Linked DNA regions of Homo sapiens. The protein of the gene in region 1 purifies or fractionates together with the protein of each later gene. This does not show direct contact. Each region holds a gene or a part of one and is shown on either strand. Other genes may lie near its edges.

Region 1 (2,628 bases):
TAATCCTTTGGGTATATACCCAGTAATGGGATGGTTGGGTCAAATGGTATTTCTAGTTCTAGATCCTTGAGGAATTGCCACACTGTCTTCCATAATGGTTGAACTACTTTACAGTCCCACCAACAGTGTAAAAGTGTTCCTATTTCTCCACATCCTCTCCAGCACCTGTTGTTTCCTGATTTTTTAATGATCGCCATTCTAACTGGTGTGAGATGATATCTCATTGTGGTTTTGATTTGCATTTCTCTGATGACCAGTGATGGTGAGCCTTTTTCATGTGTCTGTTGGCTGCATAAATGTCTTCTTTTAAGAAGTGTCTGTTCATAACCTTTGCCCACTTTTTGATGGGGTTGTTTTTTTCTTGTAAATTTGTTTGAGTTCTTTGTAGATTCTGGATATTAGCCCTTTGTCAAATGTGTAGATTGTAAAAATTTTCAGGAGATAGAGACATAAAAAACCCTTCAAAAAATCAATGAATCCAGGAACTGGTTTTTTGAAAACATCAACAAAATTGATTGACTGCTAGCAAGACTAATAAAGAAGAAAAGAGAGAATAATCAAATAGATGCAATAAAAAGTGATAAAGGGGATATCACCACTGATCCCACAGAAATACAAACTACCGTCAGAGAATACTATAAACACCTCTATGCAAATAAACTAGAAAATCTAGAAGAAATGGATAAATTGCTGGACACATACACCCTCCCAAGACTAAACCAGGAAGAAGTTGAATCCCTTCAGTAGACTAATAACAGGCTCTGAAATTGAGGCAATAATTAATAGCTTACCAACCAAAAAAAGTCCAGGACCAGACGGATTCACAGCCAAATTCTACCAGAGGTACAAAGAGGAGCTGGTACCATTCCTTCTGAAACTATTCCAATCAATAGAAAAAGAGGGAATCCTCCCTAACTCATTTTATGAGGCCAACATCATCTTGATACCAAAGCCTGGCACAGACACAACAAAAAAAAGAGAATTTTAGACCAATATCCCTGATGAACATTGATGCAAAAATCCTCAATAGACTACTGGCAAACCAAATACAGCAGCGCATCAAAAAGCTTATCCACCATGATCAAGTGGGCTTCATCCCTGGGATGCAAGACTGGTTGAACATACGCAAATCAATAAACATAATCTACCATATAAACAGAACCAAAGACCAAAACCACATGATTATCTCAATAGATGCAGAAAAGGCCTTTGACAAAATCCAATAGCCCTTCATGCTAAAAACTCTCAATAAATTAGGTATTGATGGGATGTATCTCAAAATAATAAGAGCTATTTATGACAAACCCACAGCCAATATCATACTGAATGGGAAAAAACTGGAAACATCCTTTTGAAAACTGGCACAAGACAGGTATGCCCTCTCTCACCACTCCTATTCAACATAGTGTTGGAAGTTCTGGCCAGAGCAATCAGGCAGGAGAAAGAAATAAAGGGTATTCAATTAGGAAAAGAGGAAGTCAGATCGTTCCTATTTGCAGATGACATGATTGTGTATTTAGAAAACCCCATCATCTCAGCCCAAAATCTCCTTAAGCTGATAAGCAACTTCAGCAAAGTCTCAGAATACAAAATCAATGTGCAAAAATCACAAGCATTCTTATACACCAACAACAAGCAACAGAGAGCCAAATCATGAGTGAACTCCCATCACAATTGCTTCAAAGAAAATAAAATACCTAGGAATCCAACTTACAAGGGATGTGAAGGACCTCTTCAAGGAGAACTACAAACCACTGCTCAATGAAATAAAAGAGGATACAAACAAATGGAAGAACATTCCATGCTCATGGGTAGGAAGAATCAATATCGTGAAAATGGCCATACTGCCCAAGGTAATTCATAGATTCAATGCCATCCCCATCAAGCTACCAATGACTTTCTTCACAGAATTGGAAAAAACTACCTTAAAATTCATATGGAACCAAAAAAGAGCCCGCATTGCCAAGTCAATCCTAAACCAAAAGAACAAAACTGGAGGCATCATGCTACCTGACTTCAAACTATACTACAAGTCTACAGTAACCAAAACAGCATGGTACTGGGTACCAAAACAGAGATATAGACCAATGGAACAGAACAGAGCCCTCAGAAATAATGCCGCATATCTACAACTATCTGATCTTTGACAAACCTGAAAAAACAAGAAATGGGGAAAGGATTCCCTACTTAATAAATGGTGCTGGGAAAACTGGCTAGCCATATGTAGAAAGCTGAAACTGGATCCCTTCCTTATACCTTATACAAAAATTTATTCAAGATGGATTAAAGACTTAAATGTTAGATCTAAAACCATATGAACCCTAGAAGAAAACCTAGGCAATACCATTCAGGACATAGGCATGGGCAAGGACTTCATGTCTAAAACACCAAAAGCAATGGCAACAAAAGCCAAAGTTGATAAATGGGATCTAATTAAACTAAAGAGCTTCTGCACAGCAAAAGAAACTACCATCAGAGTGAACAGGCAGCCTACAGAATGGGAGAAAATTTTTGCAACCTACTCATCTGACAAAGGGCTAATATCCAGAATCTACAAAGAACTCAAACAAATTTACAAGAAAAAAACAACCCCATCAACAAGTGGGCAAAGGATATGAACAGACACTT
Region 2 (3,500 bases), on another chromosome or scaffold:
CTTTCTACATATCATCACTGTATTTTCTCAGTAGTTTTTTTAATGTATGAACTTACAAAGTCAGAGAAACAACCTTCTAAAATGAAGATCAAATTCAGCTGGTATCAGTGTGGTATTCATTCAAAAACATAACATATTCCCACACACACCCAGACTGGTCCGAAATGTTTCATTTCAGTGGGGTGATATAAATTGCTTCTCAGAAGTTAAGGCTGCCTTACATGTAACTCACCCAAAGCTACAAGCAGTAGCCCACGCAAGTTCATATGCCTTCCTCATAAGGAAACCACCAAAGATCCGATTGAAAATGTTCCGCTCCTACAGGACATAAATAAATATCAATAAATACAAAACTTATGGCCACCTTTGTATACAGAACAGAGGAATTAACAATGCCACAGGACAAAGGCCAGTTTAAAGGTGTGTCAAATCTTGGACAAATATCATGAACGGAAGCTATCCTATTCGGATTTCTCACTAAATTATAATACCTGAGGGTGGCAAATTTCCAAACTCTTCAGTTTTGAATTCTCCATCCACACTGCATTAGAGGGTAAAACTCGACTCCGAAAACTTATAGTCCTGTACAAATGAATATTTATTAAACCCTGTTAATGCCATGGTTCTCTTGTTGAAAAGTAAAAACATTTGCAAGTCACTCCCAATACACTCAGACAACTGTGGCTCTGGAGAAGGCCAAGGTTTAGGCCAGGCGCGGTGGCTCACGCCTGTAATCCCAACACTTTGGGAGGCCGAGGCAGGCAGATCACATGAGGTCAGGAGCTTGAGACCAGCCTGGCCAACGTGGTGAAACCCCGTCTCTACTAAAAATACAAAATAATTAGCAGGCGTGGTGGCGGGCGCCTGTAATCCCAGCTACTTGGGAGGCTGAGACAGGAGAATTGCTTGAACCCGGGAGGCAGAGGTTGTAGTGAGCCAAGATCACGCCACTGCATTCCAGCCTGGGCAACAGGGTAAGACTCCATCTCAAAAACAAAAAAGGTCGGGTGTGGTGGCTCACGCCTGTAATCCCAGCACTTTGGGAGGTGGAGACAGGCAGATCACCTGAGGTCAGGAGTTCAAGACAAGCCTGACCAACATGGAGAAACCCCGTCTCTACTAAAAATACAAAATTAACCAGGCGTGGAGGTGCATGCCTATAATCCCAGCTACTCGGAGGCTGAGGCAGGAGAATCACTTGAACCCGGGAGGCAGAGGTTGCAGTGAGCCAAGATCGTGCCATTGCACTCCAGCCTGGGTAACAAGAGCGAAACTCCGTCTCAAAAAAAAAAAAAAAAAAAAAAGGCCAAGGTTTAAATGTTTTCCCAACGTGGAATCTCACCATCCTTACTTTGGATCCAGTGTGCTGAGAAACATCTCATGTATGGTGGTCCTCTCCTCAGCGCTGGGGGCCATTTTCAGTAACGACGTGGAGCTGAAGGCAATTCTTCTCCCCTTGTTCACTGGAACAAGGGAGAATAAGGAGCAATGATCAGGACGGTCGCACTACAGCACACGGTATTCTGACCTGGGATGCCTTTCAAAATCTCACTGAAAATTATACACGTATCCAAGAGAAAACTGCAGAGGCCACATAAAACTCCCAGTGAGTCTTTGGTTCCACATGGAAATTATATTGGTTCAGTGTGAGATCACTTGATATCATCCTGATCCAGAGCCCTGACCTGCAGTTATCCCATTGAGATGCATTTCTCACTTCATTAAAACGGAGAAAACAGGCCAGGTGCAGTGGCTCATGCCTGTAATCCCAACACTTTGGGAGGCGGAGGCAGGAGGATTGCTTGAGTCCAGGAGTTCAAGACCAGCCTGGGCAACATAGTGAGACCCCTGTCTCTACAAAGAAAAATTTTAATTAGCCAGGCATGGTGGCACGTGCCTATAGTCCTAGCTACTCAGGAGGCTGAGGTGGGTGGATAGCTTGGGCCCAGGAGATCGAGACTACAATATTGTTCATTGTAGCCTCAAACTCCTGGACCCAAGCCCAACTCCAGCCTGGGCAACAGAGCAAGAACTGTCTAAAAAAAAAAAACGGAGATAACAAATTACTTCACTTAATAAATATTGTCTGATCAATAAAATCATTCAAAGTATGGACTCCAAAGAAAAAAGAATAGCATATTTTTAATTTCAATAAATTATTGGTATGAATAAGACATTTGGGCCAGGCACAATGGCTCACGCCTGTAATCCCAGCACTTTGGGAGGCCAAGGCAGGCGGATCACGAGTTCAGGAGATCGAGACCATCCTGGCCAAAATGGTGAAACCCCATCTCTACTAAAAGTACAAAAATTAGCTGGGTGTGGTGGCGCGCACCTGTAGTCCCAGCTACTCAGGAGGCTGGGGCAGAAGAATCACTTGAACCCAGGAGGCAGAGGTTGCAGTGAGCCGAGATGGCACCACTGCACTCCAGCCTGGCAAGAGACAGAGAGACTCCATTTCAAAAAAAACAAACAAAAAAACAAACAAAAAAAAGACATTTGACTGGTATGAAGAGCCCATATAAAATCTTAAATAATCTCTTCTGCAGCGTAATTAATGTGCTTTTCAAATTTATTTTATTATAAACAAATTAATGTACATTCCCCTTGTCTAAAGAGCTCCTCTTCCTCTGGGCTTTCAGGGATGAGTGGATTTACAAATGCCGGCCTAAAAAGAAGAAAAAAAAGAATATAATTTAAGATATGCCATTATCTAATAAAACTTGAAGATGAACAATCACCTACTACTTTTAAAGAATCTGCTTTTCATTTTGGGTAGTGCTTACTGCTTGCCTTACATGTGAACGCTGGAACAATTAGGGAAGCCTTACAGTTACAGCCTTAATTGCACACTAGAAACTTAACATTATAAAAAGGATACTGGCATCTGCTAAATGTTTAACCTGATTCTAATCATGAGGAAACAGTCAAATATAGGTTGTAGAACACTCTACAAGAAAACTGGCTTTAGGCCGGGCGTGGTGGCTCACGCCTGTAATCCCAGCACTTTGAGAGGCCAAGCCGGGTGGGGATCACCTGAAGTTGGGAGTTTGAGACCAGCCTGACCAACAAGGAGAAACCTCGTTTCTACTAAAAATACAAAATTAGCCGGGCGTGGTGGCACATGCCTGTAATCCCAGCTACTCGGGAGGCTGAGGCAGGAGAATTGCTTGAACCCAGGAGGTGGAGGTTGCGGTGAGCCGAGATCGTGCCAGTGCACTCCAGCCTGGGCAACAAGAGCGAAACTCTGTCTCAAAAAAAGAAAAAAAAAAAAAAAAGAAAAAGAAAACTGGCTTGAACTCTTTAAAAATATCAATTTTTGAAAGACAGCAAATGGCAGAGAGACTATTCTAAAGAAACAGGATAACCAAATGCAATATACAATCCTTGATGGATTGGGTCCTGAATCAGGAAGATAGCTATAAAGGACATTTTAGGGACAACTGGTGAAATCTGAATACGGATCACATATTAAATAACTGTATCACTGTTGAATTTCT

The links.
Region 2: the proteins of OCIAD2 (region 1) and ACOT9 fractionate together in Homo sapiens (co-fractionation; one large-scale study listed by BioGRID). This does not show direct contact.

Annotation. Positions count from the first base shown.
Region 1 is NC_000004.12:48,887,147-48,889,774, reverse strand, and holds part of OCIAD2 (OCIA domain-containing protein 2), read left to right. Parts: intron 1-2,628. UniProt on the Homo sapiens protein: Has an essential role in the assembly of mitochondrial respiratory chain complex III. Is also required for STAT3 activation and plays a role in cell migration.
Region 2 is NC_000023.11:23,705,277-23,708,776, forward strand, and holds part of ACOT9 (acyl-coenzyme A thioesterase 9, mitochondrial isoform a precursor), read right to left. Parts: intron 2,669-3,500; coding exon 2,601-2,668; intron 1,464-2,600; coding exon 1,352-1,463; intron 583-1,351; coding exon 492-582; intron 319-491; coding exon 233-318; intron 1-232. UniProt on the Homo sapiens protein: Mitochondrial acyl-CoA thioesterase. Catalyzes the hydrolysis of acyl-CoAs into free fatty acids and coenzyme A (CoA), regulating their respective intracellular levels. Regulates both mitochondrial lipid and amino acid metabolism.